3 linked regions of the Homo sapiens genome follow. The protein of the gene in region 3 interacts with the protein of the main gene of each other region in a pairwise test. Each region holds a gene or a part of one and is shown on either strand. Other genes may lie near its edges.

The links.
Region 1: the proteins of ASB7 (region 3) and HMBOX1 interact in binary tests that used the Homo sapiens proteins (3 or more experiments, as listed by UniProt).
Region 2: the proteins of ASB7 (region 3) and CUL5 interact in binary tests that used the Homo sapiens proteins (3 or more experiments, as listed by UniProt).

The regions. Positions count from the first base shown.
Region 1 is NC_000008.11:28,966,762-28,970,416, forward strand, and holds part of HMBOX1 (homeobox-containing protein 1), read left to right. Parts: intron 1-3,281; coding exon 3,282-3,655. UniProt on the Homo sapiens protein: Binds directly to 5'-TTAGGG-3' repeats in telomeric DNA. Associates with the telomerase complex at sites of active telomere processing and positively regulates telomere elongation.
Region 2 is NC_000011.10:108,092,319-108,095,973, reverse strand, and holds part of CUL5 (cullin-5), read right to left. Parts: intron 1,584-3,655; coding exon 1,460-1,583; intron 1,163-1,459; coding exon 987-1,162; intron 445-986; coding exon 283-444; intron 1-282. UniProt on the Homo sapiens protein: Core component of multiple cullin-5-RING E3 ubiquitin-protein ligase complexes (ECS complexes, also named CRL5 complexes), which mediate the ubiquitination and subsequent proteasomal degradation of target proteins.
Region 3 is NC_000015.10:100,629,996-100,633,650, reverse strand, and holds part of ASB7 (ankyrin repeat and SOCS box protein 7), read right to left. Parts: coding exon 3,609-3,655; coding exon of another isoform or gene 3,601-3,608; exon of another isoform or gene 3,442-3,600; intron 1-3,441. UniProt on the Homo sapiens protein: Probable substrate-recognition component of a SCF-like ECS (Elongin-Cullin-SOCS-box protein) E3 ubiquitin-protein ligase complex which mediates the ubiquitination and subsequent proteasomal degradation of target proteins.

The sequences.
Region 1 (3,655 bases), on a different chromosome or scaffold from region 3:
TATGCTCTTAATCACTTTGCTTTGTAGTGATCATATGAATGATCATTCTAGCAATTGTGGATCATTTTGCTTTAGGTTATATTTGCATTAGGAAACTCTCAGTGCAGGGCACAGACATCTAATTTGAACAAGGTGATACATAAAGGGAAATGTATTCTCTGATGAAACAAAACAGCAAGAAGAGCAGGGATATATCAGGGGCTTAGGGATTATTGGAACAAGGGATGTGAGTGCTGCAGAGCTTTCTCCATCGCTCTGTTCCACGTTTCTTGGTATGTCTGCTTCTTCCTCCCATGAACTAGCTGCTTCCATATAATGAGGAATTTACCAGACTAATATCTTCCTGCAACTGAACACAGTTATGGTGACTGTTCATCTTTCCCCTCGTCTGACTAGAAAATTATGGGGAGAGCAAGGTTTGGCTTTCTTCTGTGCTCACCCCACTGGCCAGAAGGTGGGGTATTACGAGTGATAGCCCAAGAACATGTGCTTGGAAAGAATGAGGTGTTCTAAGCAGACAAAGTAAATAGGTGGCCTATTGTTTCTCCTTTTATGACTTGGAATAAAAGTGGTTCTAATAGTCAATGAATCTGAAATGACACAAAATATTAGATTGTTTCATATGCTGTGAAATCTTTAGTTTTGACAATTCTAATTCAAGTGTTAGGATGGATACTTTTCAGTAATAAGTGAAATTCATACAATTTACTTTTGCTTTATGCTAATACAGAGTGCTGCTCCATACAAGGAATGGTTTGAAGAACTGTATATAGATAACTAACTGCTCTGATATGAATACTATAGGAAAATACTATGATTGGGGATTTTTGTCCATATAATAAAACAGTTATTGAAGTCATCTAAAGTAAGATCACTTTATGAAATACTTTGATAACATGAAGACTGAAAATAGCAACAAACAGGTCTACTTCATTTTCAAGGGAAAATAATAATGTTTATGTTTAATTTTTTTCATTACAAAATATTGTGGGGGAACTTAGGCCATCAAGAAAGAATATAATAATCATGAAAATAGGTCTTTTTAAAATCATGGCTAACTTGTTACAAGTGAGTATTGGAAGAAATCAGACCCTAACATTTGTAGGTGTAGAGCAGATACTGTGGCCCATGGGCACAAATGGCCTGCAACATGTTTAGGTCCACAGAATGTGTGTGTTTGGTTTTGTTTTATTTTTATGAGCTTGTTTTAAAAACCAGGAAGATTTCATCTACAGTTCTAGATTTTTCCCTACTTATTTTTAAAAGGATTTGAAAGATAAAACAATCAGTGAAATGGAATAGACTATCCAAAGGTAATGCAGATTCATATGGAAATTGTGTATATGATAAAGGCAGCATTTCACATCGGAGGAGAAGACAGATATTCAGTAAAAACATACGACATCTAGCTGTCCATTTGGGATGAAATAAAGCCCCAATTTTTTATACTTGTTAAGTCAATAAAAATTCTAGATGGAGCAAGGATTTTAAATGTAGAAAACTATTACTAGGACCCCTAGGTTCATCAGTAATTAGAATAGTTTTATCTAAATGGCTTTAAATGAGACTTAAAGGAGTAGAATAGCCTGTGTGCCAAATCATATGTTTCCAGTTAAGTCCTGCAATGTATTGTAAAGGAGAATGATGTGTGCTTTTGGAGTCAATAAGATCTAGGCTTAAATCTTTTTCCTACTGTTTACTCAGATTTTTTGTGAAGTACAAAACTACACTGAGCTTTAGTTTCCTCAACAATCAATCCATCAACATAAAATGAAATGAATAAAGAACATCTACCATGGGGAGTTGCTGTGAGAATTGGATGAGATTATGTTATGTGAAATTCGTACCCAGTTCCTGCCTAGAAGTGACTGTTAATAAAGTTTTCATGTAGAAGGACAAAGAAACAGTGAGACCTTCAATAGCTATAGGACACTGGCCCAGAGCAGATGTTTGTTTGAGAAAGATGAAGAAATTTCTTGACATCTGTTTCCATCTGCAAACACTTATTGAGAGCCTACTGCATGCCATGCATTATATTTGGCACTAGAACAATAAATATCAAAATAGAAGAGATTACAACTTTAAAAAATCTTGAATGGAAAACTCAGGTCTTATAAGAAAGGAATTCAAGGCCGAGCATGGTGGCTCACACCTGTAATCCCAGCACTTTGGGAGGCCGAGGCGGGCGAATCACCTGAGGTCAGGAGTTTGAGATCAGCCTGGCCAACATGTTGAAACCCCATCTCTACTAAAAATATAAAAGTAGCCAGGCTTGGTGGCAGGTGCCTGTAATCCCAGCTACTCAGGAGGTTGAGGCAGGAGAATCGCTTGCACCCAGGAGGTGGAGGTTGCAGTGAGCCAAGACTGCGCCACTGCACTCCAGCCTGGTTGACAAGAGCAAAACTCTGTATCCAAAACAACAACAACAACAACAACAAAGGGATTCAAGCAGTGAGAATTTTTATAGTATTTGACTACTCCCTTAATATTGTTACTCACCCTAAGAAAACATTTTCTGATGTGCTGTAGTATCTTGTGCTAGTTAAAGGAAACATGTAAAAGTAATTTCCTAAGAAAAATGAATAGCATTGTTTGGCTACAACCATGAAAGATCTATTTCTCAGGGTAGCTATTAAGAGAGAATGCATTACCAGAGATGGAAAACTTAGGAAATTGCTAAGTAGTGAATGAAATGGTGCTTATTTTTTTTTTTAATGTACCTCTGTTTTCCACTTAAGTATTTTTGCTGGTTATTAGCATTTGCTTGGACTTAGCTTAGCAAATCATTTGTTCTCACTAAATGAGGTTGTAGAGAATTCCTAGGTCTGTTTAGCTAATATTTGGTAAATAATATAATACAAACTATTTTTTTCAGTAATTTTCCATTAATACTCTAATGTAGAGTAATACACTTGAGATGGGCAAAACACTTCTGAGTTATCACGTAGCCTGGGCTTATTGCACTCCATGTACCTAATCTATTGTTCTGGTATTATTTACATAACTAAAATTTTGGTTCTGATATTTACCAAAATTGAGGAAAATGTAAATTGTATGCCATATGAAATTAGGTTTTATGTTACACCTATGTTCACCTACTAATACATTTAGTATCTGTACCAATCCATTTGCCATGGCACAATCATTCTAGCATGGGACATACCTTCATTTTCAATACAGAAGCTTATGTAGAAATATTGCATCTTCTGAGCATTCTGTATAATATGTGCTTTGGTAGATACTGTCAATAAAGAGACTTCTTTTTATCTCTTTTTTTTTAGTTTGCTGGAAACCATGTCTCATTATACAGATGAACCCAGATTTACCATAGAGCAGATAGATCTGCTTCAGCGACTTCGGCGTACTGGAATGACTAAACATGAAATTCTCCATGCCTTGGAAACTTTGGACCGTCTTGATCAAGAGCATAGTGACAAGTTTGGAAGAAGGTCCAGCTATGGAGGAAGTTCATATGGGAATAGTACTAACAATGTCCCAGCATCTTCCTCTACAGCTACAGCTTCCACACAGACGCAGCATTCGGGAATGTCCCCGTCACCTAGCAACAGTTATGATACTTCCCCACAGCCTTGCACTACCAATCAAAATGGGAGGGAGAATAATGAGCGATTATCTACATCCAATGGAAAGATGT
Region 2 (3,655 bases), on a different chromosome or scaffold from region 3:
CAGGCGCCCACCACCACGCCCAGCTAATTTTTGTATTTTTAGTAGAGATGGGGTTTCACTATGTTGGCTAGGCTGGTCTCGAACTCCTGACCTCAAGTGATCTGCCCACCTCGGCCTTCCAAAGTGCTGGGATTACAGGCGTGATCCACTGTGCCCGGCCTCTATTTTTCTTGATAAGACATTCTGAAACTGTTATGAATTTACTAATATATTACAAGCCAATCATATATTTCCTGCTACATGAGAGGATACAGTCTTAAAAACAAAAAAACATAAACCAACCCATAAAGTCCTCCTAAGTTCAGCATCAGGGAGTTCAGTTGCAAGCTTAAGATTTTCAAAGCTGATTTTCTCTCTGGGTCTTTGGTTCCATGCAAACAATACAGCGAGCTGAAACGTGGTTACCTCCAAATCATATTGACCAACTTCATTCTTAAATGTTATCTATAATAGATAAAACAGATTTTTAATAAAGAATCTCATGATGATTCTCTCTTAATATCTATGACATGAATTTATATATGAAAAAGGTTGCTGTCTTCCAGTATCCACTCTTTCACAGTAATAAACATTTTAGAAGACGTTAATGACTGCCCAGAATACACGCTCATCTCCCAGCTTTCCATGTAACAAAATGTGGCCAAGTGACTGAGTACTGGCGGATGCAAATGGAAAATGACAGAGGAAACTTCTAGAAGTTGTCCCTAATGAAAGGTGTAAGCTACCCTCACCTTTTGCTTTCTGTTGCCAGGAATACTGAGATAGTTGGGATCATGTTGAATTCTGTAGACAACGGCAGTATCTTAAGTATGATGGTATAACCAGAAGCCTATGTCCCTATCAACTTCATGAAAAAAATTCACTATTTCTGCTCAAACTTTTACATGTGAGAGAGGCAAAAATCTATTTTGTTTAAGCAATTCTGCGGAGTCCTGCTACTTTCATCCAAACTGAAAGCTGAAATAACTAACACACTATCTACTTACAATTCCATTTGACATGAGATGATGCCAATGTAATTTTCTACCACTATGATTTTTTTTGTAGAATTCTTCTACTTCCGGTATCAAGTCCTCCAGTTCAGTAGGAAGTGAGACAAAGACTTTCTCAGAACTTCTTGACCAGGCGCCAGCATTCAGAATTTTTATATTAACTGAATCAGCTATAGAGAAGAATATCAGGAATATAAAGTAAATTAACAATGGATAAAATTCAAAATAAATACAGGGTAACTTTGGGTGAAAAATCAATAAGACTATAAAGATTTTGTTAAAAGTGTCCTTTTGTTTTGAAATAAAGATCTGTAAATCTAACACACTGCTTTGATAGCTGTCTCCACGGAAATGGACTTCATAACATCTTTCGATCTATTACTGCTGAGGTTTATTTTTAATTTACTGGAAAACAAAGATATTCTTCTAAGTTTAAAAAATATATACATGTAATTATAAAATAATACCTGGTAATGCCAATTTATTATTTTTGTGCATTTCCTTAAAAGCTTGGTTCAAATCTTCAGATACTTTTATGTCCTGAAACATTCTAGCAAGCTTGTTTACATAATCCGCTGGCATACCAACTTCCTATAAATATAAACCAAAGAAGGAAGAGGTAATAAATACATAATCTGATATATTACTGGGAAAAATTTTAATAGAAAAACTAAGTCTTAAATGTTTTAATACAAAATTTTTCTCATTTATTAGAATTTTATTGTCTAATACCTATGAAATTTGCTACTTAGAAACAAAATACGGTATTACAAGGGGTCCCTGCTTTGCGCATTTTTAGTATGTATGAATTTCAGTTACCACAGTACAGTTAAATAATACCAATTCCCCAAGAACAAAGCTCAACTTTCAGTTGACACTATATAATAAATTTAACTGCATGAAGTAAAAACTTTATTTCTAGCTCTTTGATCCACAAATCATGACAAAAGTAACAATGACTAACCACAATACTTCTTTCAAAATCTATTAGTTGGCATGGTGTGTAATCCTAGCACTTTGGGAGGCTGAAGCAGGAGGATCACTTGAAGCCAGGATTTTAAGACCAGCCTGGGCAACACAGTGACACCCCCATCACTACAAAAAAATTTTAAAAGTTAGCAGGATATGGCGGCATACTGCCGAGATAGTCCCAGCTACTCGGAAGGCTGAGGTGGGTGGATTGCTTGAGCCCAGGAGTTTAAGCTCTGATTGTGTCACTGCGCTCCAGCCTGGGCAACAGAAGATCCTGTTGCTTGAAAAAATTAAATAAATAAATTTTTAAAAAATGTAAACACAACCTATTAGTCATTTGTTTATTCAGTTAAACTGCAGACAGCAAAGTATGCAGTTTCATTGCATCCTTGTCTTCCAGTAATAAACCCACATGACTACTTACAAAAAAGAATAATCAAACAAGATAATTGGCAAAGATATAAAAGTAAACAGGAAATGAAAAGTGATAATGCTGGAAATGAAAATAAAATAGAACATAAATGGAGTTATAGAAGAAAGCTGACTGTGGTAGTAAGGCTGACAATGCCAGTGTTGAGGAACTTAGTGAAAGCAAATTACCAACATAAAAGATAAAAGTGGTGAGTGACAAAAAAGATAAGATACCCTAGAAGAAGTGATCCTGGCAAAAATGCTATAAAGGAATTCTCAGTATTTCATGACACTGACAGCCCAAAAGATAAAATGCTAGAAGATCATCCAAATTACAGGGGGTGTGACAACTCTCCAAGGCAAAGAAAAGATGCTTACTCTGTCAAGTTACACAAGAAGGCAAAAGCTATTCAAACTACTCTTTATTAACAGCTTTACTGTGTCAGATAATTTATCTACCATAAAATCTACTATTTTAAAGTATACAATTTGGCTGGGCTCATGCCTGTAATCCCAGCACTTTGGGAGGCTGAGGCGGGTGGATCACCTGAGGTCAGGAGTTCAAGACCAGCCTGGCTAACATGGTGAAACCCATCTCTGCTAAAAATACAAAAATTAGCTGGGCATGGTGGCATGCGCCTGTAATCCCAGCTACTCAGGAGGCTGAGGCAGGAAAATCGCTTGAACCTGGGTGGCAGAAGTTGCAGTGAGCCAAGATCGCACCACTGCACTCCAGCCTGGGCAACAAAGTGAGACTCTGTCTCAAAAAAATATAAAAAATAAAAATAAAAATAAAATATACAGTGTAATGAAGTTTAGTATATCTACAGAACTGTGCAACCATCACCACTATCTAATTTTAGAACATTTTCATCACCCCAAAAAGAAACCCCATACTATTTACAGTCACTCGTCATTTCCCCTCCTGGCCCCAACTCCTGGAATTTGTGGATTTGCCTATTCTGGACACTTCACATTAGTGGAATCATACGATATGGTCTTTGGGATTGGCTTCTTTCACTCAGCATTATGTTTTCAAAGTTCACCTAATATTGCAGCATGTATTATTAGTTTATTCCTTTTTATCACAAAAAATATTCCATTGTATGGATAAATCACATTTTATTCATTAGCTCACTGACATTTTGGGTTGTTTCCACTTTTTGACTATTATTAGTAATCTTGCCATGAACATTTGTTTACAAGTTTTTACATGAAACATGTTTTCATTTCTCTTCAAATGAATTACCTAAGAGTGAAATTGCTGGGTCAGCTCTACG
Region 3 (3,655 bases):
CCTTCTTCCTTTCCTTCCTTTCTTCCTTTCTTTCCCTTTCCCCTTTCCTTTCCTCTCTTTCCTCTTTTTTTTCTTGAGAGAGTTTCACTCTTGTCACCCAGGCCGGAGTGCAGTAGCACAATCTTGGCTCACTGCAACCTCTGCCTCCTGGGTTCAAGCGATTCTCCTGCCTCAGCCTTCCAAGTAACTGGGATTACAGGCATGTGCCACCATGCCCGGCTAATTTTTGTATTTTTAGTAGAGATGGGGTTTCACCACGTTGGCCAGGCTGGCCTCAAACTCCTGACCTCAGGTGACCCACCCGCCTCAGCCTCCCAAAGTGCTAGGATTACAGGCATGAGCCACTGCGCCCAGCCGTCACTACCATTTCTACTTGACATCGGTCACACCTTCACTGTTCTCTCTTTAATTTATTCATTCCATTCTTTTTTTTTTTTTTTTGGCTACAAGTAAAAAACCAAAAACTGGCTTCTTATAAACACTGCCAACTAAGCAGGACGCAGCTTTCCTCCCACAGGTGGCGCTCATTATTCAGGCAGGTGCTATGGCTCCTCTTAGCTGTGTTTATCATTCCTGGGCACAGAGAAGTGGCTCCTCCATGGATGGGCCCTGCTGCGCTCCTGACGTCCTGGAAGGGGGAGGTTCTGAGGTCTGAATGCTGGACAGCGGGCTGGCTGTAGGGAACAGCAACAGCAGCTCTTCATGGCCTCTCCCCCTACTCAGCACTAACAAGTCACAAGCAGATGTTAGTTTATTACCAAGCCACGGGTGCGCTCTGTTTTTTTTTTTTTTTTGCACTATATAGATCAGAGTTTTTACGGCAATTTTTCCAAAAGGCCAGAGGAGTTTTTAAATTCTGGTATTATAATTTTTTTGGTCTCTTCCAATTTAAATAATCTGTTTCTAGGCAAAACAGTGTGATGAAGAGTAAAATGTCCCTGAATGAAGACCACCATGTGGCCCCTCTGCTGTCCTTATACCTCGGCAGTCTGCGATCTCCAATCATAAGCCAACAGCATGATGCCTGGGGCTGCGGTGCCCACAGCACGCGGGCTAGAAGAAGCTCTCAGCTTTGATTTAGTGCTCCCTGAACCAACCAACCTTCTTTCAAGCTGCTTTTCATGAGAAAGCTCAGTCCAGAGCATCAGCCACAGCTGCTCCTTCTAGCCCATATTGTTCACCAGGAAAAGAAAACCTATTTAGAGCCAAAGAACACACAGGTGAAGCAGAAACACCAAATTTGCTTTTGGCAGGAAACACCACTGGAGAGTCAAGAAATACTAAATTATGTTGAGGCACCTGAAGACAAAGGACAACTGGAGCCTTAACAGACGGAGGACCCTGCACTCAGGAAAGCAGCCTGTGCTTCCTCAGTCCCCACCCCTCGCTGTGCGCAGTCAGCCAGACTGCCAGGACTACTGAGGACCTCCTAGGCGCACAGCTCTGCTCCTCGTACAGTGGAGAACCTAAGCACAGACAGAGGCAGTCCCCACTGACATTTCTATCTGCTCAAATTTTAAAGTGCATGTGAGTCTTTAACTCAACATTCCTGCTGTCCAACAGCACTGCTAGGGGCAGCTCTGAGGGCTCAGGGACACACGGCAGCCGCCCACGTGCTTGTCCTGCCCAGCGGCTCCTCTCGGCCACGTGGCTGCGTGCCTCCATGTACAGACTCTGGACAGTTGTATACAGGGTTGAAACTGGGAGGCTTGAGTTGAATATGAATCTAAAGATTTGCTCTGTTGGTGGCAAGCCAGTCCTCGCTGTTAATCCCCCCTCACTTTATTAGTTACACACTTCACCTTGAAAAACAATTACAAAGAACAAGAACATTTTAAGTGTTAAGTGCATTATAAATATTAACTCATTTAATCCTCATAACAAGCCTGTATTATCTTAATTTGAAGGTGAGGACACTAAGGCACAGAGAGATTAGGCGACCTGCCCAAGGTCACAGCTAACATGGGATAGAGTTAAGGCTCAAACTCTTGCAGTCTAGCTCTAGTCTATGCCATTAACCACTGAACAAAGTATTTTAAAAAAGGGGGCTGAGGCATTTAAGTGAGTATATAACATGCCTTCCTAAGGGCGGCCACACTCATCATAACTAAGTCTCTAATGTAGAAGTTGAGAGAACAACAACAAGGCAAGCAGGACTGCAGCACTGCGGGTATCACGTCTCCCAACTGTGGCGACTTCTGTGTGTCTCAGAAGCTTTCTGCAATGGAACACCCACCAGTCAGCCCCAGATACCTCTCCCAAGGCAGGCAGATCTGTGTGGACCAACAAAGGAACCACCAGGCACTTGTGGCCATTTAAACTTAAATCGCAATTAAATAAAATTGAAATTTCAGTTCCTCAGTGGCAACGGTCACATTAATAGGTGCTCAGCAGCCACATGGGACCAGTGGCTACTATACTGGACAGCAAGGAGAGACCATTTCCAACATCACAGAAACTGGTACTGGCCAGCACTAAGTAGACTAAGCAGTGTGATTTTTTCTTACGCTTTAGTCTGAAAACATTAGTGATAATAATTGCATCTTTTCTTCCATGAATCTGCAAAATTCAAATTACATTTTGTTTCTTCATAAAGCAAATGTGTACTCCAAAGGCCCGCTCCAAGGGGTAGAGTGGGTTACTTACAAGCAGGTCAGGTAGAGCCCTTGCCCTCTAGTAGCTGGTACCCAGGATGTTAATATGTCCTCTTGTATAATAATGACCGAAGGCTCAAAACCAGTGAGGAAAAAGGAACTCATTAAAAAGTTCAGCAGACAGCAAAATCCATTTTGTTTACAGATTTTAGCTTCATGGTGGACATTAAGCATGAGACACACATTCAACTGGTCACGTGGAAGCTTGACAAGAGAGGATGGCTAAGTACACACAAGCTGATACCCCATCAGAGGAACAACTAGGACGCACGCGTTACTACACAAAGTGGGCCAGACACTTCCAGGCTTTAAAAAAAGCACCCACACAAAAACGTTCAAATACAATGGAAGCCATGTGGTCCAGGGACAGTGGTGCCAAACTTCCCACTGCAAATATTTTCTTACAACAATTTCTAGCATCCTTAACTTCCACGAGTGGTATCCCTAAATACACAGCACCACTGCTCCATTTCATGTGGGCTCTCATGAAGCAGAAAAGCCACAATTAAAACGTGAACAACTTAGCAATAAAGCACAAATTCTAGGATATTTTCACAGGTAAGGAATCTAAGATCCAAAATTCCCCCTCTAACTCCTCAACTTGCAGTCAATGGAAGCCAGGTAAGATTATCCTTATGACCAACAGGAATTGCCTTGTTCTAACACAGATCTTTGTTCATTTAAAAAAAATTCTCCTCTCTGTCCTTCTCTCCATTCCTTCCCTCACTCTTACTGTCTACCCCTATTACATTTAGAAACACAATTGAATTTTTATGAAATCTTGTGATACAGTCAAAGTTTTTTTTTTATTTCAGAAGAATGAGGCATCGCTTACCAAGCAGTGGTTATAGGAATGATTAATATCTAGTCATCTTAAGTTGCAAAAACACATTAAGCTCCTCAGAAGATGCAAATTTTTAAAAAATGCAATAAAGTAATAATTATATTACATACTTGTGACTTCTTGTAAGAAATCCAAACATGGTCGACTACTTCCAGAA